5 linked regions of the Homo sapiens genome follow. The protein of the gene in region 5 purifies or fractionates together with the protein of the main gene of each other region. This does not show direct contact. Each region holds a gene or a part of one and is shown on either strand. Other genes may lie near its edges.

Evidence for each region.
Region 1: the proteins of MRC2 (region 5) and SPPL2B purify together in Homo sapiens (co-immunoprecipitation; one large-scale study listed by IntAct). This does not show direct contact.
Region 2: the proteins of MRC2 (region 5) and NRCAM fractionate together in Homo sapiens (co-fractionation; one large-scale study listed by BioGRID). This does not show direct contact.
Region 3: the proteins of MRC2 (region 5) and SLC9A6 fractionate together in Homo sapiens (co-fractionation; one large-scale study listed by BioGRID). This does not show direct contact.
Region 4: the proteins of MRC2 (region 5) and TSPAN15 purify together in Homo sapiens (co-immunoprecipitation; one large-scale study listed by IntAct). This does not show direct contact.

What each region holds. Positions count from the first base shown.
Region 1 is NC_000019.10:2,338,684-2,343,779, forward strand, and holds part of SPPL2B (signal peptide peptidase-like 2B isoform 2 precursor), read left to right. Parts: exon of another isoform or gene 1-68; coding exon 69-158; intron 159-381; coding exon of another isoform or gene 382-385; coding exon 386-525; exon of another isoform or gene 526-607; intron 608-1,140; coding exon 1,141-1,283; intron 1,284-1,392; coding exon 1,393-1,489; intron 1,490-2,214; coding exon 2,215-2,331; intron 2,332-4,527; coding exon 4,528-4,609; intron 4,610-5,096. UniProt on the Homo sapiens protein: Intramembrane-cleaving aspartic protease (I-CLiP) that cleaves type II membrane signal peptides in the hydrophobic plane of the membrane. Functions in ITM2B and TNF processing.
Region 2 is NC_000007.14:108,445,599-108,450,694, forward strand, and holds part of NRCAM (neuronal cell adhesion molecule isoform A precursor), read right to left. Parts: intron 1-5,096. UniProt on the Homo sapiens protein: Cell adhesion protein that is required for normal responses to cell-cell contacts in brain and in the peripheral nervous system. Plays a role in neurite outgrowth in response to contactin binding.
Region 3 is NC_000023.11:135,991,044-135,996,139, forward strand, and holds part of SLC9A6 (sodium/hydrogen exchanger 6), read left to right. Parts: intron 1-3,742; coding exon 3,743-3,942; intron 3,943-5,096. UniProt on the Homo sapiens protein: Endosomal Na(+), K(+)/H(+) antiporter. Mediates the electroneutral exchange of endosomal luminal H(+) for a cytosolic Na(+) or K(+).
Region 4 is NC_000010.11:69,454,465-69,457,964, forward strand, and holds part of TSPAN15 (tetraspanin-15), read left to right. Parts: intron 1-3,500. UniProt on the Homo sapiens protein: Part of TspanC8 subgroup, composed of 6 members that interact with the transmembrane metalloprotease ADAM10.
Region 5 is NC_000017.11:62,682,371-62,687,466, forward strand, and holds part of MRC2 (C-type mannose receptor 2 precursor), read left to right. Parts: coding exon 1-7; intron 8-5,096. UniProt on the Homo sapiens protein: May play a role as endocytotic lectin receptor displaying calcium-dependent lectin activity. Internalizes glycosylated ligands from the extracellular space for release in an endosomal compartment via clathrin-mediated endocytosis.

The sequences.
Region 1 (5,096 bases), on a different chromosome or scaffold from region 5:
GGGCACAGAGCTGGGGGCCCACCCACTGCTGCGGGTGATGCCTGCCGCTCCCTCCTCTGGGCCCCCAGGTCCCCCCGGGGGGTAATAAGACGCAGTATGATGAGATTGGCATTCCCGTGGCCCTGCTCAGCTACAAAGACATGCTGGACATCTTCACGGTAGGTCTGCGCCGGCTCAGACCCACGCTCCCGAGGAGATGGGGCAGGGGGCTTCGGGCTGGCTGCCGGGGGGGTTTGTGCCTCAGTTGGTGGGATCAGGGTGGTGGGTGAGGCGTGGCCCCTGCAGGCCAGGGTCTCCAGCCCCAGCCCCACAGCCCACAGCTGCACGTCGACCCATGGCTGGCGGGTGGCTCTGACGCCTGCCTCCGGTGTGTTCCTTGAGGCAGCGTTTCGGCCGCACGGTGAGGGCGGCGCTGTATGCGCCTAAGGAGCCGGTGCTGGACTACAACATGGTCATCATCTTCATCATGGCTGTGGGCACCGTCGCCATCGGCGGCTACTGGGCCGGGAGTCGGGACGTGAAGAAGTGAGTTTCGCATCGTGCGTGTGCTGTGACGGGGTCGGGCGGCTCTGACACGGGCCGGGACGGCCAGTCTTCCAGAACAGCAGTGAGTGCTTTGGCCTCGGCAGGCACGGCTCGCCCCGTGGAGCCCTTCGTTTCTTCCTCAGGAGGTCCTGGGACAGAATCAGTCTCTTTTCCTGCCAGGGTGGGCTCCGGGCACCTGGTGGGTGTGTAGGGCTGGGCAGGTGTGGATGTGGCAGGTACGGGCGTGGCAGGTGCAGGGCTGGGCAGGTGGCTGGGGCCAGCTACCCTCTTCCTGCTGAGCCGCCTGGGTCTGGGGAGGCCCCATGTCCAGGGCTCTTTATGCAGATCCAAGCTGCGGTTGCTGCCCACACGCCAGCCTCTGGCCCGGCCTAGTGGCCACCCCAGCTCAACCCAGGGACGCGGGCCCTGCCACCCTCTGCTGTGTGGTCTCCTCTGCCCTGGGGACGTTCGGGGCGGTTCCTTGCACTTCAGTCCCCCCCGGGTCCCCTCCTGCTCCCGGGTTTTCTGCCCCGTTCCCCCGGGTGGCTGTGGGCTCCCGAGCCCCGTGTCGGCCAGCCGGCCCCAGGGCCCCACGACCCCATGGTGTCTCCCAAGAAGGTACATGAAGCACAAGCGCGACGATGGGCCCGAGAAGCAGGAGGACGAGGCGGTGGACGTGACGCCGGTGATGACCTGCGTGTTTGTGGTGATGTGCTGCTCCATGCTGGTGCTGCTCTACTATTTCTACGATCTCCTCGGTGCGCGGCCCCGGGCGGGTGGGCCGCGGCGTGGAGATGCAGCCCGCCCCGTGCGGAGGGAGGGTGGCGTGCGGGCCTGGCCCCCGGCCTCACGGCCCTGCCCCTGCAGTGTACGTGGTCATCGGGATCTTCTGCCTGGCCTCCGCCACCGGCCTCTACAGCTGCCTGGCGCCCTGTGTGCGGCGGCTGCCCTTCGGCAAGTGCAGGTGAGTCTGCCCTGCTGGCCCCGACGTGCCTGACTCTGTGCGGTGATGGCCACGGCCCCTTTGCCGCCCCATAGCCCCCCATGGTGCAATATTGCTCAGAGTCTACAGCAGGCGCTCCCTCAGTGCTGGCCTGGGGCTCCTAGGCCCAGGAGCAGGGCGGAGTCTGGGCGAGCTATCAATGGAGCCCACCAGCAGCCAGGCGCCAGGGGTGGCGGGGGGAGGGTGCCCTTGTCCCCAGGAACCCTGCCCCAGGTCGCAGGCCGAACCCTGGGTTCCCCAGGGTTCTCCGGGGAACCCAGAAGGTTCCCCACAGCCCAGAGCTTGGCCTGGCTCTTAGGGGTAAAGGGAGCTGCTGGGGGGTCTCCAACAAAGTCAGACCTGGGTCTAGGAAGCGGGGCTAGCCCAGGGGGAGACCTTTTTGTGTTGCCGTCCCTGGGTGAGGAGGTGGGAGGTCTGGAGCAGGCAGGGCCTCGGGCGAAGGGGCGCAGCGCAGGCGAGGGGCTCTGTGGGTACAGCCCGTGGCCCCCAGCGCCTGCCCGGGTCGGGCTCTGCCCTGCCCTTGGGGTGCCTACTGTTGTCATCGTGTGGGATGTGGAGTTTAATGAGGACAACAGAGTGGGGGCTGCCACTCTGCAGGGGGTGCCTGGGCCGGTCCCAAGGGTGGTGGGCAGTGGGATGAGGCCGGGAGCTGGTGGGCTTGGCTCTGACTGCCCCGTGCCCCCCAGGATCCCCAACAACAGCCTGCCCTACTTCCACAAGCGCCCGCAGGCCCGTATGCTGCTCCTGGCGCTCTTCTGCGTGGCCGTCAGCGTGGTGTGGGGCGTCTTCCGCAACGAGGACCAGTAAGTGCTGCTTCCCCCGGGCCCCGGCGGGCAGCGGAGTCCTCGGGTGCACCAGGGCTCCTGGGGCCCTGACTCCCTGCCCTCCCTGGAGGCCGCCCCAGCCTGGAGCTGCTTCAGCACCGCGTGATGAAGAGCCCTGGCCCCGGGCTGCTCTGACAGGGCTGCGAGGGCGTTTCACCTGGGGTTTGTCCGGGTGTCATGGGAACCCTGACTGGAATCCGGGAGGAGAGGCCGGAGCCCCTGTGGCCAGGAGCCACGTCCTCCAGCCTGGATGGGACTCCTTTGTGGGGCATCGCTGCCCAGGGCCACAGTCTGTCCCCCGCTGTCCCTTTCCTGGCACCCACGTGCACGCCGCAGGTTCGAGGCCCAGGGTGTGGGCACCAGGGCACCCGGTCCTCTTGGTCATGACTGCTGCGGCTTCTGAGCAGTGGTGGAGGTGGGGCAGGCACTGCTCCCCCCACGCTCACCTCCCACGTGGCCTGGACTTGTGGCTGCCTCCCGCTGGCCGGGCCTCCCCCATGAGGCCGAGTGCCTGGTGCCGTGTTGGGAGGACAGAGCTGGCCCGTCCCCGCCCGGTCCCCACCGCTGTCGCTGATACCATCTGGCACTTCCTCCCAGCCTTCCTGAGGCAGCCAAGTACGCTTGGCTTTGGTGTGTATTGGAGCCACGGCACGTTTAACTGGCAGAAGGAAGATGTGAAAATATTTTGAATCCTTTGTACACAAAGAGAAAATGAATCTTTTCAGTTATTTCCAAGCCAGGAAACTCGCTCCGTCACATGAAGTTAGAGCAGGCCTCAGTCAGCTGGGCGCAGGGGCTCACGCCTGGGATCCCAGCATTTGGTAGGCCAAGGCAGGACGATCACTTTGCCCAGGAGTTCAAGACCAGCCTGGGCAACAAGCGAGACGCCCTATTTAAGAAATAATATAAAATCAGAAAAAATAACTGGCCGCAGTTCTCTGGGTGCTTGAAGTACGTGGCGCCTGGAATTGGCTGTACCAGCGTCTCCCATGGAGGCCTCTGCTGTTAGCAGCCGCCCCGCCCTGGAGATGTTTTTATCCCATTTTCAAATGAAGCCTTTGATGTTTGAGACGCTGAGGAACGCTGGGGAACTCGTCCAGCAAGTGACAGGCAGAGCCTGCATTGGGGGCAGGGGCCAGCGGGGAGGGGACTCTGGGGCTTCGTGGGGCCAGGAGAGAGCCGAAGTTGCGGCTGGCTGCAGGGGCCGTGGCCTTGTGCAGGAGGCAGTTCTGTGCTTTGCCCCAGGGCACCAACCGCATGGCAGCCCCACCCACTGTGGACCCAGAGGTTCTTTGAGGAAACCTGGTGTGGCACAAGTTTTAATTTAATAAACAGTTTGGGCACGGGGGCTCATGCCTGTAATCCCAGCACTTTGGGAGGTGAGGCGGGCAGATCACTTGAGGTCAGGAGTTTGAGACCAGCCTGGCCAACATGACAAAACCCCATCTCTACTAAAAATACAAAAAAATTTGCCTGGCATTGTGGTGTGTGCCTGTAATCCCAGCTACTTGGGAGGCTGAGGCAGGAGAATTGCTTGAACCTGGGAGGTGGAGGTTGCAGCGAGTCAAGATCGTGCCACCAAACTCCAGCCTGGGTGACAGAGTGAGACTCCATCTCAAAAACAAAATAAAAACAGTTTGGAGGGGTCAGTGCCCAAGCCCTCCTGCGCACGCACCCTCTGCCTGGCCCCTGCCTACAGCCTGTGACCCCTGCCTACAGCGTGACGCCCACCATCCGGGGACAGTGACTGAGGGGACGCAGCCGGCCAGGCCCGTGTCCACCATCCTGGCCCCACCATCCGGGGACAGCGACTGAGGGGACGCAGCCGGCCAGGCCCGTGTCCACCGTCCTGGCCCCACCATCTGGGGACAGCGACCGAGGAGACGCAGCCGGCCAGGCCTGTGTCCACTGTCCTGGCTGCCGAGTGGTGGGCTCCTCTACCTGCTTCCGCAGGGTGGGCCCTGGGGTGGGGCCTGTGCCGCCAGCCCTGCTGGAGTTGTAACAGCAGGGGTCCTCCCACAGGTCTGGGGTCCTCAGAGTCATCCCCTGGGCAGGTGGAAGGGCAGTGGGGCTGCGTGCTGGCTGAGAGCAAGGGCCCTGTGTGGCTCGTGGGAGGCGGCGTCCTGGGTGGTCAGCCAGCCTCTGCCCCGGCGAGGATGCTGCTTTGTCTTGCAGGTGGGCCTGGGTCCTCCAGGATGCCCTGGGCATCGCCTTCTGCCTCTACATGCTGAAGACCATCCGTCTGCCCACCTTCAAGGTGAGTGCAGGGAGGGCACGGCTGCGGGGCAGCATGGGTAGTGGGGGCCCTTCATCCTAGCCTGGCCCGTGTGGGGCTGTGGTCCTTGCAGGTCTGTGCTCCTGCTCACTGCCCTGGGGATGGCCGCCTAGGCCTGTTGTGAAGGGTGGGGCTTGAAGATTGGGTCCCAAAGCCCCCGCTGAGGCGGCCTGGGTGGGTGGCTGCGGGGCGGTTCCCGGCAGGGGCAACTCATGTCTAGATGAGGTGGTGGTGAGAGTGGTTGAATAGGGCTGGAGGAACTGGCCTCAGGTGGTACCGGGAGTGCGGGGATGTTGTCAAGCCCCAGGCGGCTGCACTCCCGTGAGGGCCCCACAGCACCCCAAGCAAGCGGCATTTGAATGCCCAGGATGGCCCTCTGTATCCCCAGAGCCGGCCCTGCGTGGCACAGGCCTCCGCCCTCCCGTCCCCGCCTTCCTGTTACGTGGAGACTCTAAAAGCCTGACTTTTG
Region 2 (5,096 bases), on a different chromosome or scaffold from region 5:
TGTGATGTAGGGTTGGGTGGTGACAAAGATTTTGTGTTTTATCTCTATTTTCTAAATAAAGAAAAGTTACTTAAGTAACTTTTCCAAAGCCATGCAGTGTATGAGCTTTCTTAATCTATGTGTAGTAGCCTAGTTCTTCTCAAATTTTAATTAATCAAAGATGTTACATAACTTTTTATTCTAGGTGTCTCTAATATGGCACCACTGCCCTGAATCCAACCCCTATAACCCACTAACTAGTTACGAAAGGCCATGCTGTAGTTCAACTCACATCTTAAGGGAGAAAGTTCCATTTTTAAAGCTACAGCATGAGAGCTTCTGATCTGTTTCACAAACCAGTCTCTTCATTTTTCATTTCAGTTCTGTGTGCCTCACTTCTGATTTCTTCAAATTCAGAGGGTAGAAAGCAATCTCAGAAAGTGCTTAACTCAGTCAGTGTGCAGCCACCCAGAGACCTCCGGAGGAAAATGACAAGCACCAGCTTCAGACAGTGAAGGGAAAGGAAAGCCACGTGCAAATCTGGAATCATCTGCCATTAGCAAAGGTAGAAAATTATAGAGGAACTCTTTGGGGTCACAAGGATGTCATTTAGACCTCCGCAGCAGAAATTTTTTAAATAGTACCCTTCTGGATTCAATGATTTCACCTGCTTGCTCAAGTGCCTAATTTAGAACCAGCAAGCAAATTACAATCTACAGAGTCCAGGCATGAAATTATAAATGTTTGGTTTCTCATGGTCTAGATCTATCTATGTCTTCAAACCAGGGCTGAGAACAAAACCCCCCAATTTTCCCCAACAAAGATCCACCTGACATTCTGACATTTTGCAATATTCATGTATTCAGTCATTCATTCTTGCACACACTCATTTATCAAATTTGGGGGCTCTCAGATACATACCACCATGCATAATGTGAAGAGCAGCTCAGGCTCCTCGCAGAACAGAGCAAGGATGGTTTCCGAAGTTAGGAGACATGGAGAAAGCTGACTAAGATAAGCAAGGGCCCCCAATGCCTGGATGACTAGTTATCTGCTTTTCTTTATCATGCAGACTCGGCCCCTCAATGTTATTTAGAGCAAATATCAAATATTTTTATACAATCGTATGTTCTCTCTGCATTTACAACCTATGTCTTTTTTTTTTTTTGAGATGGAGTCTCGCTGTGTTGCCCAGGCTGTAGTGCAAGTGCATGATCACAGCTCACTGCAACCTTCGCCTCCTGGGTTGAGGTGATTCTCCTGCCTCAGCCTCCTGAGTAGCTGGGATTACAGACGCCCACCACCACACCTGGCTCATTTTTGCATTTTTTTAGTAGAGATGGGGTTTCACCATGTTGGCCAGGCTGGTCTCAAATTCCCGACCTCAAGTGATCTGCCCGCCCAGGCCTCCCAAAGTGCTGGGATTAGCATGAGCCACCACACCCAGACCCACCTGTCTACCTCTTTACTAATTTTTATTCAGCCTTATTTGCTTAGGTTTCACTTGGTATCTATTTGCTCTTTCAACAGAGTCTCTACTTAGATATTTCTGAAAAATTTTTCATGAATTGAACTTTGATACATTACAGCAGCTCACTCATCATATAATCCTTATGCAAAGTGAAGAATCCTCTTTGATGTGAACAGTCACCCCATATGGGTTTGCCAAGTTCACTTCTTTCTTTTTTTTTTTTTTTTTTTTTTTTTAGACAGCGTCTCGCTCTATTGCCCAGGCTGGAGTGCAGTGGCACAATCTTGGCTCACTGAAACCTCTGCCTCCTGGGTTCCAGTGATTCTCCTGCCTCAGCCTCCCGAGTAGCTGGGATTACAGGCACGCACCACCATGCCTGGCTAATTTTTGTTTTTGTATTTTTAGTAGAGAGGGGGTTTTACCATGCTGGCCAGGGCGCTCTTGAACTCCTGATCTCATGATCCGCCTACTCTGTCCTCCCAAAGTGCTGGAACTACAGGTGTGAGCCACTGCGCCCGACCAAGTTCACATTTTCATATGCTAACTTTCTCAAGCTAGGGCCACCTGTACATAAAGGAACAAAACAGCTGGAAAATAGAGTGGATTTGGCTAGGAATTTAAGCATGTTACACTGAAATAACTTTAGCTTTCAATTCTTAGTAAATTCTTCTCAATACATTTCTTTTAAATGTAAATGTCTTATCATATTTCATTTTTGTAAGGTGACTTATGAGTTATTTCTATTTTATGATGTCAAGTTACTGCAATGACCCAAAGTACTACAGTAAAATATCCCTAGAATATTTCGTATTGAGTGCTATGAAGTGGAGACTATTCTCCATTAGCCAGGCAATAGCCATAAAAACTTTTATTCTTTTCCCTTTCTCTTTCTTTCAAATTTTAAGCTATTACCTTTAGAGGTAATGAGTCTGATCATGAACTCACTCCCTCTCTGCTGTTTAATGAACCCCCTCATGGTTTTAGGACAGCAGTGAACCCTTGACATCTATTTACCTTCCATTATAATTTCACATCACAGTAACTGTTACTAGAAACGTAAACATAACCATGGAGTTTTTTAAACCCCAGCACATCTATTAAAATGAAATTTACCTTAAAATTCATGAAACACACAAGGTATATATCATGATTCATGTAAAACACAACATGTCGTGTAAGTTAATATAATCATTCTGAAGTAAATTAGATGTTGTTCACATTAGAGTATTTATTATGTTGGAATTTCCATGTTACTAACTGTTCAAATATTGCCATGTCAATGTTATTTCCCTAAAAGTAGAAATATTCATTTGAATGTACTAAATATACATTTACAAAAATGGCTTTTAGCCATCATGCTACTAACATCAGAAGAAAAGACTATGTCGAGTCATTTAAGCAGTCAAAGATGCGAAAGCAAAATTTGGTGATGTTTCAACTTTCAATTTTTCAGTTTTCAAATACTACAATTTTTCCATTTCCAATCGCAGTTTTACAGAATACCAGGAAGAATTTCAAATTACCCAAAATTGCTTTTTATTTCACTTATTATAATACATTCTAGTACCCTCTACCTCCTAGTAGCTGCTTTTATTATTCTAGTGATGCACACACTAGAAAACGTTTCCTACTGAAATGTTTTCAATCAGATGCTGCCTACCAAAATGAATGGAAAACCATGTGCCATATGAAAAACTTCGAGAGTAAATATAAGAGTGATGGACTCCCACCGGGAGCAGAAAGCCAAAATCACACTTCATAAATATACTTATCTGGGAAGAAAAAACACTGGTTAGACAATATTTAGGACAGATGTATCTTGTTGCACATCAAAACAATCTGTGGACAACACCACAACACTGCGATGCAATTTTACAAGGGAAGCTGGTTGGGCATTTCTGTATTTATTCAACTAGATAATAGAGGGGAAAGCCGCAGAACAGTCAGAAGAATATTTGCAATGCAATTAGGGGGAACAAGTGCATCTGAGTGAGCGCCAGACACAGGGGCCTCCCCTTAATTCACACAGTCCAATGTTTTAATGCAGCGTACAGCAGCAAACTGAACTTCCTACAGTTTTAAAACTTTTGTCAGTTAACTAGATGTTTACCAAGTGCCTCGCTTGGGCACTCAACATTTCGGGTGTGCCATCCAGCTCTATGTAGGTTGTTCCAACACCATCTGTCACTTAAGCTTCCACAGATTCACAAATTTCAATTCGAACTAATCTACTCGGCACTCAAACTGAAGCTATAATTCAAATTTCAACATGAAGCTTGAATTCCTTTTCAGTGTTCTTCAACTTTGACCCAGCTCCCCCCTCCCTTCACTGAAAAGGGCCAAGACAACAGCCCAGCAAGTGGGGCAGGCAAAACAGGCCTCCTTTGTTCACTTTTGTCCTTTCAGCTCTCTATTGAGGTAAGGGACTGAAAAGGCACACCAGGTTTTGGAAGGCAGCAGCGGACTCGCTCGCAAGCCATCCTTCCTCAAAGAACCAAAAAACTCCAGGACAAAACTCTTTGGACAGGCCACTCTTACCTTAAGGCATAATTAATGGGAGATTAGTACTTCCCCTTTCCCTTGAGAGAGAATCTGTTAGTGGTGTTGAATATGAGTCTGTAAATGTTCATCAAAAATGCATGCCATAAATCATGCCATTCAAATGCCAAGGACATCAAAAAGTGGCATGAAATTAGCTTTAAAGTTGAAATTTGGAGAAAAGATCACTACATGCTGAATACTCATACTGAATTTTTTGAATGCTCTCAGCCCACTTGAGAAAGATAAATCAAATTCATTGCATATTACCCAGTGGAAGACCTCCTACAGGATTCCCTCAGATTGCCCTAGAAATAGATTTTTTTTTTTTCTGGTTACAGTGGGTTTTGAACCAACACACTATGCACATAATAAAATTTAAACATATATATATATTCAACATATATATATTCAAAATATAGTTTCCAGCCCTTCCTACCATTATTTAATGAGAAGAATTTCAAAAGGATCATTTTTGCCTGACAGTACCTGTCATTTTCATTCTCATGTGAATTAAACCATGTTTTAGTCCAGGGCAATATGGAAGAAATTCGGAGAGCACATAATACAAGTAAGATTCATCATTCCTGTGTTCGAACTGAATATGCCATTAGGACAGTATGTGAGTACAGGAGCATTAGTGGTTATAATTTGTTCCCTTTACCACTGGCTTTTTTTTTTTTTTATCTTCACTAGCTTCTTAGTCACTTGATGGAAACCCTCCATCAGACTGTTAAAAATTACCTTTTTCTAATTTGAAATTCCAATCTTGTAGGCCAGTAAAATAGGTCAATTAAGTTGACACCACATCTTTTTTATTAGCTCAGCTAAGCAATTATAATTGGGTGGTGAAGGTTTATGCTGTCATCTTGGAAGATTCAATGGTAGGGAGAAATGCCCAATGTGGAACTATAATTTACAATGCCAGTACATCCCTAAACATTCAGCATAAGAATATTTCTATTTTCAGATATGAGGCAAATTTGCTCTTGTTCTAGATTAAAATAATAATGCCATTTTTTGGCAGTAAAAAAAGCATATTTATTTAACTTATCCTCATAGCAAAATCATTTAGCACAAGTGTATTACAGACATAGGTACTTTAATT
Region 3 (5,096 bases), on a different chromosome or scaffold from region 5:
AGTCAGTTTTTAATTTTGTTTTTGGAGGTGAGATATTTTTAAAAGGTGTCTTTCATTTATTTTAAATTCGAACCTTTGTTTAAACGTTTTTAAAGTTGGTGTCATTATACTACTGTTCACGAATGAATCATTACTACTCTAAAAAATATATGTGACTATAAATTGACCAGAAGGATCCCTCCTCTCTGCTCCCTCCCTGCTTCCTGGGCAACTACTGCCTTTTTTTTTTTTTGGACAGAGTTTTTGCTCCATTGTCCTGGCTGGAGTGCGGTGGCATGATCTCAACTCACTGCAACCTCCACCTCCTGGGTTCAAGCAACTTTCCTGCCTCAGCCTCCCAAGTAGCTGGGATTACAGGTGCCTGCCACCACGCCCGGCTAATTTTTGTATTTTTAGTAGAGATGAGGTTTCACTATGTTGGCCAGGCTGGTCTCGAACTCTTGACCTCAAGTGATCCACCCGCCTCGGCCTCCCAAAGTGCTAGGATTACACGTGAGCCACTGCGCCCGGCTGGCAACGACTGCTCTTATACCTCCTCATTTCTGCTTCATCACTTCTCACTTGGGTCTGGTTTCCACTCCTGCTACTCCACTGAAACTGCTCTTATCAAGGTCACCTATGGCCTCCTTGTTGCCAAACCCAATGGATACTTCTAATGCCTGCCTTACTCGACTTTACTATAGCATTTGATAGTTTTTATCACTTCCTTCTCCTCAAAAATGAATTTTTTCCCTTTCTTCCTGACTTTGCCACCACTGGTTCCTTTTTTTTTCTACTCCTGTGGGTTTTCCTTCTCAGACTCCTTCATCAGCTCCTTCTCCTCTAGCAGCCCCTTAATGTTGGCTGTTAATAGATCAAACCCCAGATCTATATCATAGTCTTCTTCCCATTTTACTTGCTCCCCTGGCGATCTCATCTACATCTGACTTCAACCATCTTATGACTGCACAGTGTATATCTCCAGTTGAGACCCCTCGCTTTAGCTCCAGATACCACATACTCAACTATGCGTGTGTCACAAGTACATCCAACTCAACGTGTCCAAAACTGAATGTAGCCTTTTCCCCTGTAAATCTGTTCATCTGTGTATGTTCCTTACCTCATTGAATGTCCTTGTTATCCCCCTCGGTGCTCAGGCCAACTTACCCACCTGGTTACCAAATCAATTAAGGTTCCTCTTAGTCTTTCATCTCCCTTCCTCAGTCACTAAATCTTCCTAAAATATAATACCTTCAAAAAATCCTTCTCGCCTCCTGTCAGTACTCTCTTAGGTTAGGACCTAAACTCTTATTGCCTGAATGCCTACAGTAGCCCTGTATCTAGCCTTTTAGACCCTCTTTAGTCTAGACCAGTCTTTCTAAAGTAGAAATCTGCTATCAAGCCTCTGCCTTCTATGACTTCATTTTACTTTTGGGATAAACTTCAAATTCCCTTCCCCAACAGATAAGATCTTTTATGATTCAACTCCTGCCAATCTTTCAAACCTCAACTCTTGTCACTTTATAAGCCAGCCATACTAAACTACTTGATTCACTGGATGGGCTGTGTTGTCTCCATCCTTGACTGATATGTACTACTATTCCCCTACGTGGAATATACCCATTTCTTCTAGTTTGTTACCTGCCCAGGTGACATCTCTGGAAAGACTTCCCTAATGTCTTACTCCCCCAGGGTTGCATAGTTGTCTCTTTTCTGTTTTTATAATACCTTGTATACATATATATATATAGCATTATGATTGTTTATTCAGTCTGTTTTCACCAACTGGACCGAGTTTTCCTTGACATTATGATTGTTTATTCAGTCTGTTTTCACCAACTGGACCGAGTTTTCCTTGAAGGAGGGACCTTGTTTTCATCTCTGAACCCTGGAGGCCTACCTAGCATAGTACACTCATTCACGTATTAAAAGAATGGCTGGCTAGTCAGAATGAAAGGCAATAGGAAGGTAAAATGCAGCTAGTAGTGGTATACTATGCATGGAGTTAAGGAAAGTTCCAGAAGTTTGGGTTTTATTTGTAGTTGAGGTATGTCCATACAATGAAATATCGTTTGGTCGTAAAAGTAAATGAGGTTCTGATGCATGCTACAACATAGATAAACCTTGAAAATATGCTAAGTGAAAGAAGTCAGACACAAAAGGCCATATATTGTAGGAGTTCATTTATATGAAATGTCTAGAAAAGACAGGTCCATAAAGAAAGAAAGTAGATGAGTGGTTGCCAGGGGCTGTGGATTCGGGCATGGGGGAATGGAGAGTGACTGCTAGTAGGTGTGGGGTTCTTTTTGGAGGGAAGGAAAATGTTCTAGAATTAGATAGTGGTGATTGATGTTCAACTTTGTGAATACACTAAAGACCACTGAATTGTACAGTTTTTAAAAGGATAAACTTTTGGTGTTTGAATTAGATATCAGTAAAGCCATTACTAAACAATTATAGTCGATCAATATAGTTTTATAGGGCTGGGCATGGTGGCTCAGGTCTGTAATCCCAGCAGTTTGGGAGGCCGAGGTGGATGGATTACAAGGTCAGGAGTTCGACCTTGGTCAGGAGCCTGGCCAACATGGTGAAACCCCATCTCTACTAAAAATACAAAAATTAGCCAGGTGTGTTGGTGTGAGCCTATAATCCCAGCTACTTGGGAGGCTGAGGCAGGATAATTGATTGGACCCGGGAGGCGGAGGTTGCAGTGAGCCGAGATCATGCCACTGCACTCCAGCCTGGGCAACAGAGCAAAATTTCGTCTCAGAAAAAAAAAAAATTTAGTTTTACAGTACCTAGAACATTGTGCATATTTGAATGTCAGTAGGATGATCCAGCAATCTGTTTGATGTCATAGTGCCAGATTCAGGACTTCTATTCCATGTTTTGATTTTGAAGCAGATTTTTAAAATTAAAATCTGATCTTTTAGAAGTAGAAGAACTCAATCAACCTACAAATATTATTGACTTTTCAATTTGTTAAATGTGCATTGTTTGGCCAGTCATGTGCTTTGGGAATAAACTTGCGAAGTGCATTGTTTAAGTCTTATAAATTGATGAATGGAGGTGAAAAACAAATTTCTTTTTTTTTTTTTTTGAGACAGGGTTTCACTTTGTTGCCCAGGCTGGAGTGAAGTGGCATGATCTCGGCTCACTGCAACCTCTGCCTCCTGGGTTAAAGCAATTCTCACACCTCAGCCTCCTGAGTAGCTGGGATTACAGGCGCCCGCCACCACGCCCGGCTGATTTTTTGTATCTTAGTAGAGTTGGGGTTTCACCAAGTTTCCCAGGCTGGTCTCGAACTTCTGAGCTCTCAGGCAATCCACCCATCTCGGCCTCCCAAAGTGCTAAGATTACAGGCATGAGCCACCGCGCCTGGCCAGAAAACACATTTCTAACACGATTGCACTGTCGAGTTGGGACACATTGGAGCATATTCTGTCTACAGATGATTTGAAGATATTTTCTCCTTTTGTTACCTTCCTCATTACTTATTTAAATATTGATCTAGAAATGCAGTGATCTGTGCTGTTGTCCTAGGGAATGTTTTTCTCTCCTGTTTCACTGGATTATATGAAGATTGGGCTGTTTGTTGTATGAATTTAGTAATATTTTAAAACATAACTGCATTTCATCTAAAAATCAGTTCTGAGCTACAGGGAACTACCGTAAGAGATTTTCTCTTATCCATAGTTATGCGTGGGGTACAAAAGAAGTGGTCTCTGTCGGCAAGAAGAGCTTATGTTGTTCTTTTTTCCAGGTCTTTTGGTGGGCCTTGTGCTTCGGTATGGCATTCATGTTCCGAGTGATGTAAATAATGTGACCCTGAGCTGTGAAGTGCAGTCAAGTCCAACTACCTTACTGGTAAATGTTAGTGGAAAATTTTATGAGTATATGCTGAAAGGAGAGATTAGTTCACATGAACTCAATAATGTTCAAGATAATGAAATGCTTAGAAAGGTAAGTTCTTAAAGGAAATCTTTGAATCTTTTTTGTGTCTAACTAGCAGCAAAATGATCCAGGAGAAAATAAGTAATGGATTTTTAATGATATTTAAAATAATGAGTCTTTTTCAATGGAGTAAAACCTCAATTAACAAATGTAATAATGTAAGGAAATGGATATGTCTGTACAACTCATTTTCTGATTGAGGTTAAGTAGTATAACTCTTTTTGTTTCTCTCTGGATTGTTTACAGCTTGTTGTGATAAATGGAGACTGGGATTGAGTTAAGCAGAATTTATAAGCGTTTCTTTCCATTTGCAGATGGTCCTTATAGTTTTCTTTTTCTTTTTCTTTCTTTATTTTATTTTTTCTGAGATGGAGTCTCACTCTGTCACCCAGGTAGAGTGCAGTGGCATGATCTTGGCTCACTGCAGCCTCTGTCTCCTGGGTTCAAGCAATTCTCCTGCCTCAGCCTCCCGTGTAGCTGGGATTACAGGCATCCACCACCACACCCGGCTGATTTTTGTATTTTTTAGTAGAGACGGGGTTCTACCATGTTGGCCAGGCTGGTCTCCAACTCCTGACCTCAAGTGAATCCCCCGCCTCGGCCTCCCAAAGTGCTGGGATTACAGGCATGAGCCACTGCGCCCAGCCGGTCCTTATAGTTTTATAGTACTTCAGCACATTGGCTTTATTTGATAATACCTAAAATATTCTATTAATATTTCTTTCAATTCTTTCTTGCCTTGCTTGTATTCTATACCGATCACAATTTAATCTTTCTTTGATTCACAATCTGACACAACTTCAGGGGCCCTAAGTGTGAGTCTGAGTTATTGTACCATATTGTGCATAAAGCTTTATGTTAGAGTTTGAGTTGCAATTGTACTGGCTCCCAGAAATCCCTGGAGCTGCTTTCTCCTGTCTCCCTCATAGGTTTATCATGACGTTTCTCATGATAAACGGCTCAATGCCACTTTGCTCATGTCTCTTTGTTTTCTCCTACCTTTGCTGTTTGCCTTCACTTCTGTCTGCTACATTGGCAGGACTTGACTTTTTTTTTTTTTTTTTTTTTTTTTTGACACAGGGTTTTACTCTGTCACCCAGGCTGGAGTGTAGTGGCACGATCTCAGCTCTCTGCAACCCCCGCCTCCCAGGCTCAGGTGACTC
Region 4 (3,500 bases), on a different chromosome or scaffold from region 5:
CTGACATCGTGCCACGGCACTGTAGTTGGGTGACAGTGTAAGACTCGGTTTAAAAAAAAAAATTACTATTGACCAGGCATTGTGGCTCATGCCTGTAATCCTAGCACTTTGGAAGGCCAAGATGGGCAGATTGCTTGAACCTGGGAGTTCGAGACCAGCCTGGGCAACATGATGAAACTCTGTCTCTACTAAAAATACAAAAATTAGCTGGGCGTGGTGGCATGCACCTGTAGTCACAGCTACTTGGGAGGCTGAGGTAGGAGGATCACCTGAGCTCAGGAGACGGAGGTTGAAGTGAGTTGAGATTGTGCCACTGCACTCCAGCCTGCATGAGACTCTGTTGCAGAAAATAAAAAATAAAAAATAAATTACTACTGATAGAAATGCATGCATGGGCTTGTTACAAAATTTAGAAGTAGAAAAGGGTAAGGCCGGGTGAGGTGTAATCCCAGCACTTTGGGAGGCTGAGGCGGGCGGATCGTGAGGTTAAGAGATCAAGACCGTCCTGGCCAACATGGCGGAACCCCGTCTTTACTAAAAATACAAAAATTAGCTGGGTATGGTGGCGTGTGCCTGTAGTTTCAGCTACAGCGAGGGCTGAGGTGGAGAAACGCTAGAACCCGGGAAGCGGAGGTTGCAGTGAGCCTAGATAGCGCCACTGCATTCCAGCCTGGTGACAGTCTCAAAAAAAAAAAAAAAAAAAAGGAAAGGGTAGTGGTTAGTGACAAGCCTCCCCTCCTACCCCTCTCTCCTGGCCTGCCCAGTCCAGAGGAGGCCTTTGTTATCAGTTTCCTGTCACTCTTTTCTGAGCTATCGTAGTCAAAGGATGTCCTAGGACAAACATATGTATATTTAAAATAAGGTAGCACACTATACACAGAACTACGTATGTAGCCCCTCTTTCACTTAAATTTAAATCCACGTGAATTATGGAGATCTGCTAGGAGCTGCCTCATTCTGTGTGTTGGCTACATAGATTCCACTCTAGGCTATGCCACATTTATTTAATAGTCCCCAGCTGGGGAACTCTTAGGTTGTTCCCAGTCTTTCTTTCCCTCTCTTTCTTTCTCTTTCTTTCTTTCTTCTCTCTCTCTCTTTCTTTCTTTCTCTTTTCTTTCTTTCTTTCTCTTTCTTTCTTTCTTTCTCTCTCTCTCTCTCTCTCCCCCCCCCGTCTCTTTCTTTCTTCCTTTCTTTCTTTCACTGAGAACAGTGACACAGTGAGTATCTCTGAATGTGTCATTTTGCATGGGTGTATATGTCTGTGGAGTAATTCTAGGAGTGGGGTTGTTGAGTTAAGGGGTATATGAATATATGTTATACATGCAGACACGCACCTGCCATCAGTATATACAGCTTGATGAGTTTTCACAAAGTGAACACACCTGTACACTGAGCCCCCAGGTCAACCAGCAGAATGGACAGCAGAAGGCAGATACCCCTCAAACCCTCTTCTAGGCACTATCTCTTACCTTTGTGGGTGATCACCACTGGATTATCTAGCAGTATAGAATAGCTTTGCCTGTTTTTGTATGTGCATTTAACATTTTGATGTTATTAAATTGTCCTATATAGAGGTGACACCAATTGTAATATTATTTACTTAATATGTTTATTTAAATTTACTTACTTTTTTTTTTTTTTGAGACAGAGCCTCGCTCTTTCACCTAGACTGGAGTACAATGGTGTGATCTTGGCTCACTGCAGCCTCTGCCTTCCAGGCTCAAGCGATTCTCCTGCCTCAGCCTCCCGAGTAGCTAGGACTACAGGCGCCTACTACCACGATGGGCTAATTTTTGTATTTTTGGTAGAGACGGGGTTCTACCATGTTGACCAGACTGTCTCGACCTCCTGACCTTAAATGATCCACCAGCCTGGGCCTCCCAAAGTGCTGGGATTACAGGCGTGAGTCACTGTGTCCAGCCTAAACTTCCTTTTTAAACTTAAATTTCTTTTCCTTTTTTTCCCTTTTTTAAAGTATATATTTTTTATTTTCCAGGCACATAGGTTCAAGTTGCCCTGAATATGCACGCCTTTAAATTTATTTTTAAAAGGAGGCTTTATATCAGTATTATGAATGGGAAACCAAGACGCCCATCATAAATAGCAGGTAAAGGTTTAAAATAAGTACAGTACAGGGAAAACAAAACAATGATACTAAATCCTAGCTGGATGTCATGGGTGCTGAAGGCTGTGACCCTGACGCCTACCCTCTCTGTTCAAAAGGTAGGTTGGCAAGTGCTTGAGGGGCTGAAAGACAAACTAGCACCCAAACTGAGACCCGCTCCTTGATGCAATCGGAGGGGTCGAAAGGGCATTGAACGAGGAAAGCTCAGTCTGTAAGTCCCTATGATAGGTATACCCCTAAACCACTTATGGTTATCTGTCCCACACTCAGGGCCCTCTTGTTTTCGGCAGGGAACTTTGGGGCTGCAAAAGGGTGTGTTTGAGGCTCACTTGTCAGAGCTGGCATGTACCCCAGGTCCCTGCATCCTCAGGTAGGTGCTCCTTGGCCCTTCCAGTAAGTCATGGGGATGTCTGCGGGAGAAATGAGCTCACGCTGAGGCACTTAGAGCCTCCTTTTCCCACCACACAGGGTGAATCATTCTGACACATGCGCCCTCAGCCCATTGGGGACACACCTCTAATTTTAGCACTGCCCACGGGGTATCTTAGAGATCCGTTTACAGGACTGCTTTTCCTTGCTGGACTGTGGGCTCCCAGAGGTCAGGATTGTAGTTCATCCATATCCTCCTCTGAATGCTGCCCCTGGGGCCTGTGCACACAGTAGGTGCTCAGGGGAGGCATGTTGCATGATGGTGATTGAGTCCCACTTGTACCTACAAGGCGAGGATCCAGCTTGGGGCAGAGGCCTGGCTGGGGGTGTAACCCGCAGTGGTCAGGTCTGCTGAGGCCTTGACTTTGCAAAGTGGGCAGGGCTGATCATGGTGCTACGGACTCTCCACAGAGCACCAAGCCTGTTTCCTTGATAACAGGGTAGGACTTTCAAGTGGGTAAAGGTGTCATGGCTGGGGAGTGTTGACTAATCAGGAAGAAAAGGACTTGGTGGGAGTTGGGGGCAAGTAGGGAGGAGCTGAGGGTGGGTAGGTGGTGGAGGCAGCAAATGCCAGAGGCAATAGGAACTCTTTCTGGGCTTTCTCCAAGGATGAACCTGCTTATTAGAGCTTGGCCTGTGATTTCTTACATTTCTTATAGTTTAATGGTTAAGAGTGTGGGCTGTGTACCAGGTTGCCTGGGTTCAAATCCCAGCTCTGACACTTAAAGGTTAAGTGGCCTAGACATAACTTCCATGCACCTAACCTACCTGAAGAGTTGCTAAGCAGATTAGATGGATTAATACATCTGAAGAGCTTAGAGTGGTGCCTGGCACATGATGAACACTCCATCAACTAGTCATGGATTAGTCGTTCTTTTCCTGCCTTCCTCTCTAGCCTTGCTGCTCAAGAGCCATAGACTAAGAATGAGAAGGGCTGTTAAAGACA
Region 5 (5,096 bases):
CAACAAGGTAGGAGGTGGCAATGGGGCACCCAAGGGAGTCAGGGGAGAGGACGTGAACAGGGAAAGGCTGAGCCTCAGGAGTCCTGGCCTTTTGGCAGCACCAAACTCATGGCCTCTTGCCTGTACCCACCAACTTCTCTTTCACCTGGCTCCAGTACCAGGGCCAGACTCCTTGGAAAATGACTCACTGTAGTAGCACCTTCCAATCCTCCGGGAAGCAAGGTTGTCCAAATAATTTGGTGAGTGTTCTAGATCAGTGATTGCCAAAGATTTTTTTTTTTTTTTTTTGAGAAGGAGTTTCACTCTTGTCACCCAGGCTGGAGTGCAGTGGCGCGATCTCGGCTCACTGCAACCTCTGCTTCCTGGGTTCAACCAATTCTCTTGCCTCAGCCTCCCGAGTAGCTGGGATTACAGGCACCTGCCACCACCCCTGGCTAATTTTTGTATTTTTAGTAGAGATGGGGTTTCACCATGTTGGCCAGGCTAGTCTCGAACCCCTGAACTCAGGTGATCACCTGCCTTGGCCTCCCAAAGTGCTGGGATTACAGATGTGAGCCACCGCGCCCGGCCTGATTGCCGGCCTGATTATCAAAGATTTTGATAATGAACTCCTATTAGTAAAACAAAATATTGAGCTTACATGACCAAACTATGTGTGTGTACATTTAACTTATATATGTATATGTGTGTGTAAATAAAACCTACTTCCATACTAATATGACTAATATTATATATAGTAAAATATGTATAAGAACAAAAGAGTATAAAACATTAGCTAAAGATTTTTAAATACTTTTAAGTTTAAAACATTTTTTTGGCTGCGCGTGGTGGGTCATGCCTGTAATCCCAGCCCTTTGGGAGGCTGAGGCGGGTGAATCACCTGAGATTAGGAGTTCGAGACCAGCCTGACCAACATGGAGAAACCCCATCTCTACTAAAAATACAAAATTAGCTGAGTGTGGTGGCACATGCCTGTAATCCCAGCTACTCGGGAGGATGAGGCAGGAGAATTGCTTGAATCCTGGAGGCGGAAGTTGCGGTGAGTCAAGATCGTGCCATTGCACTCCAGCCTGGGCAACAAAAGCGAAACTCCGTCTCAAAAAAATAAACAAAGAAAAAAAAAACAACAAAAAAAACACCTTTTTTTTTTTTTTTTTTTTTTACTAGTGGTATGAAAACATTTTTTTGTGCTCACTCAAAAGTGATTAATTGGCTGGGAGAGGTGGCTCACACCTGTAATCCCAGCACTTTGGGAGGCTGAGGCAGGAGGATGACTTGAGCCCAGGAGTTCGAGACCAGTCTGGACAACATGGAGAGACCATGTCTCTACAAAAAATAGGAAAATTAACCAGGTGTGATGGTGCACACTTGTAGTTCCAGCTACCCAGGAGGTGGGAAGTGGGAGGATCTCCTGAACCCAGGAGGTAGAGGCTTCAATGAGCCATGGTCATGCCACTGTATACCACCCTGGGTAATGGAGTGAGACCCTTTCTCCAAAAAAAAAAAAGATCAATTATAATAATTATTGTTTAATATGCTCACTTTGGCAGCACATGTACAAAAAGTGAAACAATACAGAGAAGATTAGCATGGCCCTGCACAAGGATGCTATGCAAATTCCTGAAGGGTCCATATTTTGCGTAGTTCATGAAAGTTGAAGGTTGTTCAACAAAAAAATTGTCTAAATAATTTTAATAAGAGCAATGTGATTACATGTACTTCACGTTTTTAAAAAATTTTAGTCTGACACTTTATGACTCATGACTCACAGGTCTAACGTGTTGAAAATCAAAGTTATTTCAAAACATGCATTTCATGGTGGCTATAGATTAAATATGCCTCACAAAGACAAATAGATTGAAGTGAAAAAAGTTCATCCATCATTTCTAAATAATTCTCCCCATTTTTAGTCCTTCTACCAATTAAACAAACATTTTTGTTTAAAAATTGGCTAGTAGGCTGGGACGCTGAGCACTGGGAGGATCACTTGAAGCCAGGAGTTCGAGACCAGCCTGGGCAATGTAGCAAGACCCTATCTAGAAAATTCTTTTTCCAAGTGTTTTGAGTGTGCAGGTAGGAAAGTTTGGGGCACTGACATTAATCACTATGGATGCATTTCTCAACACGTTTTTACAACACCCCCTCCATAGTGTGAGTTTCTTCCCCACAGTCGTTATTTTTCCATGCACAGGCTGATTTATTAGACCTGATTAGTCCTTCATTGTTTTTACCTGGCGATTGACAACGAGTTCATACCAGGAAGAGAAGGTTGTCATTTTCCTTGTTATGTGCCAGGGTAATTGGCATTAATCTCAAGCCATGGCTTCTTTGCAGGACATTTTAAGAACACTTAGCCCTGTTGTGAAGATTAGATTAGTTAACACTGAATAATATAATCCACAAATCCTTGTCATACACAGGAAGGCAGCCAGCCTCTTAGTGTCATGGATCTCCTGCCCTCCTCAGAATATTCAAAAGAACATTACACGGCCAGGCGCTGTGGCTCATGCCTGTAATCCCAGCACTTTGGGAGGCCGAGGCGGGTGGATCACCTGAGATCAGGAGTTTGAGACCAACCAGGGCAACATCGCAAAACCCTGTCTCTACTAAAAATACAAAAAATTATCTGGGCATGGTGGTGGACGCCTGTAATCTCACCTACTCGGGAGGCTGAGGCAGCAGAATCGCTTGAACCTGGGAGGCAGAGGTTGCAGTGAGCTGAGATCGAGCCACTGCACTCCAGCCTGGGCGAGAGATTGAGACTCTCTCTCAAAACAAAACAAAACAAAAACCACACAAAAAAAAAATTACACCTCTTCTACCTTAAAAAATTAAGGCATGTATATTATTAAAACTTTGGAAAATACAGAAGAGAAACCAAAACTCACCCAACACTCTCTAGAGATCACAGCTATCAATATTTGTTATTCTCCTTCCTGCCTTTTTCCATGGAATTGAGCTCATACTAAATAATATAATTTCCTACCCAACTCTTCTTTCTCTGTATCATATTTTGAGCATCTCTCATGTTATAAAGTTTTTCCAAAAACTTGTTCTTTTTCCATCCACTTTTTAAACAGAATGTATTTTATATATGTAATAGGTCCCATTCTTAATCATCATTGTCAAGATACCAGTTACTCTCCTGCCCTGTGGAAAGTTCTGTTTGTTTTTGTTTTTGAGACAGGGTCTTGCTCTGTCTCAAAAACTGCTGGAGTATGGTGGTACCATCATGGCTTACTTACTGCAGCCTCGACCTCCTAGGCTTAAGTGATCCTCCTGCCTCAGCCTCCTGAGTAGCTGGCACTACAGGCTTATGCCACCATGCCCAGCTAATTTTTCTATTTTTTTTGTAGAAATGGGGTTTTGCCATGTTGTCCAGGCTGGTTTTGAACTTCTGGGCTCAAGCGATCCTCCTGCCTTGGCCTTCCAAAGGGCAGGGATTACAGGTGTGCGCCACTGTGCCTGGCCTGTGGAAAGCTCTGGAAGTATGCTAGGGTGTTCACTCCTTCACTGCCTGCCCTCACACATCTTGCTTTACTAGTTCTGTGCCCTTCTTTGTGTCCCTATAGCATTTGGATGTAGGTAAAGCATTTATGGCAGCTGTCCCCAACCTTTTTGGCACCAGGGACTGGTTTCTTGGAAGACAATTTTTCCATGTACTAGGGGAGGGGAGGGATGGTTTTGGGATGAAACTGTTCCACCTCAGATCATCAGGCATTAGATTCTCATAAGGAGCACGCAACCTAGATCCCTTGCATGTGCAATTCACGGTAGGGTTCGCACTCCTATGAGAATCTTGGCTGGGCGCGGTGGCTCAGCCTATAATCCCAGCACTTTGGGAGGCCTAGGTGGGCAGATTACCTGAGGTCAGGAGTTTGAAACCAGCCTGGCCAACATGGTGAAACCCTGTCTCTACTAAAAATACAAAAATTAGCCAGGTGTGGTGGTGGGCGCCTGTAATCCCAGCTACTCGGGAGGCTGAGGCAGGAGAATAGCTTGAACCTGGGAGGCGGAGGTTGCAGTGAGCTGAGATTGCGCCATTGCACTCCAGCCTGGGCAACAAAGCAAGACTCCATCTCAACAACAACAACAACAACAACAACAACAACAACAAAGAATCTAATGCCCTGCTGATCCAACAGGAGGTGGAGCTCAGGCTGTAATGCCCCTTCGCCCCGCTGCTCACCTCCTAAGAGGCCGGGGACCCCTGGTTTGTGGGACAGCCTCTTCCACTAGCTTTAAGCTCCTGGAGGGCAGGGCCACTAGCACCTGCCATACCCCTTAATACACTTGCACATGGCAGGGATGCCCTCAGTGTCGGCTGGACTGAGCTGAATACCCTCCCCCTTTAGCTGTCACTTCTTGCTGGTACTGGTGTGACCTTGCTGCTTCCAAGTTTATGATGAATTCTACTCATGATTTAAGTTGGGCCTCAGCATGGCTCTGAAACTACTTCTGTGAAACCAAATCCTTGAACTTTGTGACAGACCTCCAAAAATCTGCATTATTTCTGGGCTTACAATTTTTTACCCCAAATCTGCCATCTGCATCAGTAAGGATGGTGCTGGAGCTAATTATTAATAGTCACAGCTCTCACTGGTTAAGTGCCTACTGTGTCATGTACTGTTATCTTTAATCCTTAAAATGATCCCCAAAGACAGGCTTTGTATTACCACTTTACAGAAGAGTAAATTGAGGCCATAAGGTTGTCAGAGCTGGAATCTGACATCTCCCCCTTACCTGAATCCCACCCCTGTCTTTATGACTCCAAAGCTTCCCTACACCCTTTCTTTTTTTTTCTTTTGAGACAGAGTTTCGCTCTTGTTGCCCAGGCTGGAGTGTAATGGCGTGATCTCAGCTCACTGCAACCTCCGCCTCCTGGGTTCAAGCGATTCTCCTGCCTCAGCCTCCCAAGTAGCTGGGATTACAGGCATGTGCCACCACGCCTGGCTAATTTTATATTTTTAGTAGAGATGGGGTTTCTCCATGTTGGTCAGGCTGGTCTCGAACTCCAGACCTCAGGTGATCCACCCGCCTTGGCCTCCCAAAGTGCTGGGATTACAGGTGTGAGCCACCGTGCCTGGCCAACACCC